Linked DNA regions of Homo sapiens. The protein of the gene in region 1 interacts with the protein of each later gene in a biochemical or structural test. Each region holds a gene or a part of one and is shown on either strand. Other genes may lie near its edges. The genes, in order: DTD1 and CDC7.

Region 1 (3,821 bases):
GGCAATGAAAGTAGGCTGCTGAGATGGCAGTGCCCTTTGCTAGAGTGGCTAAGAGCAGGAAGGGAGATGCAGGAGCGCAAGTGGACTCTGCATCTGCATCTGGATTCTGTATCGGTGAGTGAGTGTTCTGCACAGGCAATCACAGCAGCAGCTGTGGACTGGCACAGGCAGCCAGAGAAGGTGGCACAAACAGGTTCCACCCCCAGGTGGGCACCCCAGGCCTGTGGTATGCCACCCTCCTGCATCTCAATGAATAAAATACAATCTTATTTGCTAACTGATATGGTTTGGCTGTGTCCCCACCCAAATCTCATCTTGAATTGTAGCTCCCATAATTCCCACGTAGGAACACACACGTGGAAATTATGGGAACTACAATTCAAGATGAGGGGCCTGGTGGGAGGTAACTGAATCATGGGGGCAGTTTCCCCCATACTGTTCTCTTGGTAGTGAACAAGTCTCACAAGAGCTGATGGTTTTATAAGGGGAAACCCCTTTCACTTGTTTTTTGTTTTTTTTTTTTGAGATGGAGTCTTGCTCTGTCACCAGGCTGGAGTGCTTGACCCTTATACTCTCTTGCCTGCCGCCATGTAAGAAATGCCTTTTGCCTTCAACCATGATTGTGAGGCCTCCCCAGCCACGTGGAACTGCGAGTCCATTAAACTTCTTTATCTTTATAAATTACTCAGTCTCAGGTATGTCTTTATCAGCAGCGTGAAAACGGACTAACACACTAACTTTTGTCTCCATCCTGGAAGGCAGCAGATTTAAGGAAGCTATGGATGAACGCTGTGAAATGAATGAATTCAGCCTCAGCAGCTATTCCCTCCTATTCATTGCTGCTTCCCCAAAATGTGGGAAGATGAAGCCAAGCAGGGAAACTCCTACCTGAATTCTGCCTCCTGAGCTACGGCTCCCGTTCAGAGGACACGTCGCCCTCAGCCCCGCTGCTGGCACTGCGGTCTTCTTTTCGGGGAGTGTTTCTTTCCTTGCTTGATTCAGAAGGTCCCTTAGCTCTGGTCTTTTCTTTCCTCTGCTGCTGTTTTTCGAGCTTTGACAGCTGATTAAATAAAAATAAAAAAGAATATTTTACAAACACAAACACATGCCTGTGTATCCCACACACCAGTGACTTCCCAGGTGGGAACCATTGAAAAGTTTTTTTCTGATAACCTGGCAGAGCACAGTGGTTCAGATATACCAAATTATACACAGAATGTTTTTCCAACAGGCACCTGAATCACTGAAACAAATCATTAGTCATAGGAGTAATCACTCTCAGACTTTTCCCCAACCATAATTCAACTTGGCACACAGTATGAGGGAGCGGTCATGCCACAGCCTTCTTCAACAGCCTTAGAAGAGCTCCATATATGAAGGCTTTTCATCTCTTACTTTTTTCTTTGATAGTTTTTTTTCTCATCAAGTTACCTTCTACTTGTTGTTTTCTTTTTTCTTTTCTTTTCTTTTTTTTTTTTTTTTTTTTGAGACAGGGTCTCACTCTGTTGCCCAGGCTGAAGTACAGTGGTGCGGTCACAGTTCACTGCAGCCTCAACCTCCTGGGTTCAAGTGATCCTCCCACCTCAACCTCTCAAGTATCTGTGACTACAGGTGCATGCCAATTTTTCTGTAGAAACAGAGTTTCACCATGTTGCCCAAGCTGTTCTTGAACTCCTGGGCTCAAGCAACCCACCCACCTCGGCCTCCCAAAGTGTTGTGATTACAGGTGTGAGCCACCATGCCACACCACGTGTTTTCTAAAGAATGTTCAAAACACATTACTCTTTGCTGAAGATTACAGAGAAGGCTGTGAAACAAAGTGCATTAAGCACACTGAACACCGTCTCAGTTACCAGTTGATTTGAGACTGAAGGCTGACTTGCTTGCAGGCTGCGTGGTGGCAACACTCAGGACACTGGCCACTAGAGCCTTCTTAGGCTCCCACCAGGCCAGCAGGGGACATGCCCCTGATGTCTCACTCGAATGGAACCTGGGCCCACTTCTTCCCTGAATAGTTCTTCAAAGAAAGCATCAGCTAGATGGCTGAAAGAAGCTTCCATCATCTAACACTGAGCAGCAGCCCAGCCACTACAGGAAAGCCTGCTGAGAAACCCAGCAGAGAAGACCGGCCAAGTTTTGAACCACGGAATTTTCTTAGACCAAAAAACACAAGAGACAGCAATACCCAGTTTTATCTCCCTCCCAGACTAAGTCTGTGAACTTTTTCTAGTTTACATAAAAAGAAGGAAACTTATTGAAGGGCTGGCTTCTCCCTGCTGGTCCCTGCCCCACATCCAAGACACAAAGAGGATTCACTTCCCCCAATCTGCCAGATCATTTCTTCCACTATGAACAGACTTTGAGTTAACCCTTCGAGAGATGAACAACCAACCAGTAGCTCTCAATTGGGTCCAGGAAATCAAATTTATTAATAATTGACTTATAGTAGTGGTCCCCAACATTTTTGGCACCAGGGACCGGTTTTATAGAAGACAATTTTTCTGTGAGATGGGGGACAGAAGAGGGGATGGTTTCAGGATGAAACTGTTCCATCTCAGAGCATCAGACATTGGTGAGATTCTCATAAGAAGCCTGCAACCTAGATCCCCCGCATGCACAGTTCACAATGGGGTTCCCGCTCCTATGAGAATCTAAGGCCACTGCTGATCTGACAGGAGGCGGAGCTCAGGTGATAATGCTCGTTCATAGGCTGCTCACCTCCTGCTGTGCAGACTAGTTCCTAACAGGCCACAGGGATTAGTACCGGTCCCTGGCCTGGGGGTTGAGGACCCCTGGCTTATTCTTTCCTACTCCCCATTTACCTGAAAAGCTGTAGAATACAGCTAAGTTTGGTTAATATACTAATTAGATTTTGTGAATGAAGACATCACTTCACCTTTGACTCAGCAACTCTCCTCCGAAAACTCCCCTGGATAAATTTCCACTTGTGTGCACAGTGGGGGCTTCTGAGAACATGGACTGTAGTGTCATTTGTATTTGCAAAAACCTAGAAACAACCCAAATGTCCATCAACATTAGGAGGACAGATACGTGTAATGTGGTCTGGTCCCCTAAAGCAATATTGTACAGTAGATCTACATATATCAAAATAGCCAAGTCTTGGTCAGAGGTGGTGGCTCATGCCTGCAATAGCGGCACTTTAGGAGACCAAGGTGGGCGACTGCTTGGGCTCAGGAGTTTGAGACCAGCCTGGGCAACATAGAGAGACCCTGTCTCTACAAAAAAAAAAAAAAAAAAAAAATACAAAGGTTAGCCAGGCGTGGTGGCACATGCCTGTAGTCCCAGCTACTGGGGAGGCTGAGACGGGAGGATCGCTTGAGCCCAGCAAGCAGAGGTTACAGTAAGTTGAGATCATGTCACTGCACTCCAGCCTGGGTGACAGAGGAAGACTGTCTCAAAAAAAATTTTTTTTAATTAAAAAAAATAGATAAATCTTGAAAATCATGTTATACAAAACAAATTTAGCTTCAGAAGGCTATATACAGTAGGATTCCACTAACACAAAATAATACTCTACATAGCTAGTGAGCTCATGCAAATACAGTATGGCCTGGAAGAATACACGCCAACTTCAATACACTAGTTAACATGGAGGGGAAAGAGGATAATGGGATCTTAGTGGAATGAATATATACAGGCTTCAACTGTAACCATCAACTTTATAAGAACAAAACCAGATCTAGAGCAGAGTTACTAATCAGTGCACTCCACAAAATGCACGTGACACCTGGACCAGCAACAGTAAGATGCTCGTGTCAGAATGTAAATCAGTACATAGCTTCCTTCATCAGCAAAGTATT
Region 2 (3,821 bases), on another chromosome or scaffold:
GAGTTGCATGTCAGAATTATCTGAGAATCTTTAAGAAATACATATGCCTGCCCACTCAGCCTATTCTTGGAAAATATGATTCAGAAAAACAAGATACTTAGGAAGGCTCCAGCCTTGTTAGTTTGAAAAAGCAAGTGATTCTGACTAAGAAACTATGGGTGTTTAAGAACCACTGCAAAAATTACTGCCCTTGCTTATGCACTAGTGCTATAGTCTAATCTACAAGAAAAACTTAGTGGTGGTTGTGAAGAAAGCCTCATCTTAATAGAGGCTTGCCAAAATATGTTTCTACAGTAAAGTCAGTCCACGATTTGTAACTATCTTGTACTTATTGTAAGAAAATTTTATTTGAAGATAATAGGATGAAATAATACAAGGGAAAAAAAGTGACCATGAGTGGAAAGCAAGATTGATATCTTAGAAATGGCATTCTTACATAATAATATAACAAGTATGTTTATTCTCAACTGAGAAAACTTTCATCTACTATTGAATAACTTCGTGAGAGGTTTATGAACATGAAGTTTATCAGCCAATACCAACATATTTTATTGAAGAGCTTGAATCTCCCCCATTGTAATCCAAGTTATAATCAGGGCCAACAATGGAAATACAACATCTGACCCAAAAATACTCTAGATCAAGTGCCATGATAGCAAGCAAGAGCTTTTAGAGATTTATCATTGTAATACTTCTCATATTAAAAAAAAAATAGGGCCAGCCGTGGTGACTCACACCTGTAATCCCAGCACTTTGAGAGGCTTAGGTGGGCAGATCATGAGGTCAGGAGACCGAGACCATCCTGGCCAACGTGGTGAAACCCCATCTCTATTAAAAACACAAAAATTAGTTGGGCATGGTAGCATGCACTTGTAGTCCCAGCTACTCGGGAGGCTGAGGCAGGAGAACCAGCTGAACCTGGGAGATGGAGGTTGCAGTGAGCCAAGATTGCACCACTGCACTCCAGCCTGACGACAGAGCAAGACTCTGTCTCAAAAAAACAAATAATAAAAATAATGCCATAGGACTTGTCTCAGTTGTATTAGTATGACATCTGTAGTTATTTTAGTCTTGATCTTACTATAACTTTGGACTGAGTATAAAAGCCTCAAAATTTCAACAAACACAACTGTGTTCCCCTTTGTAACCTAAAGAAATGACTTGGCTGAGATTAGCAGTGAGAGCACCTTTACTTCTCTTATCTGTCCTCAACCCTTAAACCTGGCTCCATTGTGGGTTGTCATTAAGTACTCAGTGAATTGTGTTGAATAAATTAAAAAGAAAAGTCTTGAGCTGAAACAAATTCCTGACACATAGTAGTCTGTAATAAAATATGTTGACTGATAGTGTTACTTGAAGTTATTTTTCCTGAATATTGTAAATGAACCCTCTTTTTGGTCATATAAAAAAAAGCATATTGTATAACTTGGGGACATGCTATAACATATACTATTAGTTATTTTATGACTTCAGAACAAGCTAATAAAGGAATAAAACTATATGAATATTCCCCCCTGGCTATAATTTTCTAGAGAGAATAGGAATGATAGAATCAGTTTAAAAGTAAAAAAGCATTGGCATATTGTACTCTCAAAGAATTTGGTCTTCAGTAATTGTTTGTTTCCTCCCTTTCCCTCCCCCATTTTTTTCCCTGGCTTAGTACACCAGTCCAGTAGTTAGTTCAGAATATGTAAAGGTAACTTTTTATCATCCACAGTCAGATTAATGACTTTGTTGACAATCTACATTCTCAGAAAGGCATCTAAATGTTGTGGTACTTGTTGTTTCGTACATTTAGTATATTTCTGTTTAATAAGGAAATGTAAGGCAAAAATAATACATGATTGCCATTTGTGTGATTAACTTTTTTTTGCACATCTGATAATAAACCCATCAGGAAGTTATTTCAAATACATTTATATTTTTAAAAACAGATCTAGTTTGTTTATTTGTTCATTCAGAAACATTTATTGGGGCTTTATGTGTGCCAAGTACTATTGCGAGTCTCTGCTTTCACAGAGCTTAAATTCTAGTGAGGGAGAGAACATAAATAAATACTATGAGAAATGAGTGGTACTGAGATAAAAGGAAAAGGGGAGGGAAGAGGCTTATTTAGGATAGGTTGGTCAAGAACAGCATCTCTAAGGATGTATGTGTCATTTGAACAGTTGTTGAAAAGAATAATGCCTTTTTGTCTAGTCCAACAGACATTAACTGACTACCTAATCTGTACCAGGCATAGGCTGGGTTTGGGGGGTTCAAAGATAAATAAGACAGTTCCTGCCTTCAAAGAGCTCAGTCTACTAGGTGGGACAGACATATATAGGATAGCAAAAGTAATAGTAGAACTCTCAAGATACAGTAGAAACTGAAATTGATCAGTTCTCTCTGAGGGTGTCAAGCCTCAGAGGTGATTCTTGATCTGAGTGGTGATGTCAGTGAGAGTGTCCTGGGCACACAAGGGGTGCAGGGCATCCTAGGCAAAGACAGGAGTCATGTAGTCAAAGACATAGAAGCATGGAAAGGAAGTAGAGTGGGGGCGTGGGAGCTGCAGCTAGTTAAAGATTATAGAAGGGTAAGATGAAGCTTGAGAAATTGGCAGAGTCAAGTGAGTGCCTGGCATAGCTTAGTAAGTCACTGCTTTGTACTTACTATCTCCCACTTTATCTCCCACTATGCAATTCAAATACAACTTAAATATAGCATGTGGTGCTCTATCTCATACTGTGTGTGTGTGTGTGTGTGTGTGTGTGTGTCCATGTCTATAAAGCATATGTTTGAACTTTCATGTTTCTCATGAGAGAGGCTTCTGATATATTCAAATAATAAAATGTTTTTTTCTGTTTTTGTTTTTTCTTCTTTTGCTTTTAGGGAAATCAATATTATGTAGCAAAGAAGTTCCAGCACAAGACTTGAGAAAACTCTGTGAGAGACTCAGGGGTATGGATTCTAGCACTCCCAAGTTAACAAGTGATATACAAGGGCATGCTTCTCATCAACCAGCTATTTCAGAGAAGACTGACCATAAAGCTTCTTGCCTCGTTCAAACACCTCCAGGACAATACTCAGGGAATTCATTTAAAAAGGGGGATAGTAATAGCTGTGAGCATTGTTTTGATGAGTATAATACCAATTTAGAAGGCTGGAATGAGGTACCTGATGAAGCTTATGACCTGCTTGATAAACTTCTAGATCTAAATCCAGCTTCAAGAATAACAGCAGAAGAAGCTTTGTTGCATCCATTTTTTAAAGATATGAGCTTGTGATAATGGATCTTCATTTAATGTTTACTGTTATGAGGTAGAATAAAAAAGAATACTTTGTAATAGCCACAAGTTCTTGTTTAGAGACCAGAGCAGGATTAATAATTTATTTTAACATTTTAGTGTTTGGTGGCACATTCTAAAATATAGATTAAGAATACTTAAAATGCCTGGGATAGTTCTTGGGACTAACAACATGATCTTCTTTGAGTTAAACCTACCTAAGTAGATTTTAGGTGGGTTCCTATTAGGTCAGATTTTTAGCTTCCCTAATTACCTTTCACTGACATATACAGAAAAAGGAGCAGTTTTAGTTTTAATTAATTAAAATTAACAGATGTGATGAGGATTAAATGAATCAAAAGACTTAATTTGTAGATTCTTTTAGAGTTATGAGCTAGGTATAGTTTGGGGAAACTCAACCTGGTGCTGGTGCTCTTAACAATTTTGTAAATAAAGAAGATAATTTCCTTTTCTAGAGGTACATATTAGGCCTTTTATGAACACTAAAACAATGAGGAAATGTTGGTCATGGGGCAAAGTATCACTTAAAATTGA

The links.
Region 2: of the proteins of DTD1 (region 1) and CDC7, one has a biochemical effect on the other in vitro, tested with the Homo sapiens proteins (one study listed by BioGRID).

The regions. Positions count from the first base shown.
Region 1 is NC_000020.11:18,741,339-18,745,159, reverse strand, and holds part of DTD1 (D-aminoacyl-tRNA deacylase 1), read right to left. Parts: intron 1,061-3,821; coding exon 908-1,060; 3' UTR 889-907; intron 1-888. UniProt on the Homo sapiens protein: Possible ATPase involved in DNA replication, may facilitate loading of CDC45 onto pre-replication complexes. An aminoacyl-tRNA editing enzyme that deacylates mischarged D-aminoacyl-tRNAs.
Region 2 is NC_000001.11:91,521,170-91,524,990, forward strand, and holds part of CDC7 (cell division cycle 7-related protein kinase), read left to right. Parts: intron 1-2,871; coding exon 2,872-3,266; 3' UTR 3,267-3,821. UniProt on the Homo sapiens protein: Kinase involved in initiation of DNA replication. Phosphorylates critical substrates that regulate the G1/S phase transition and initiation of DNA replication, such as MCM proteins and CLASPIN.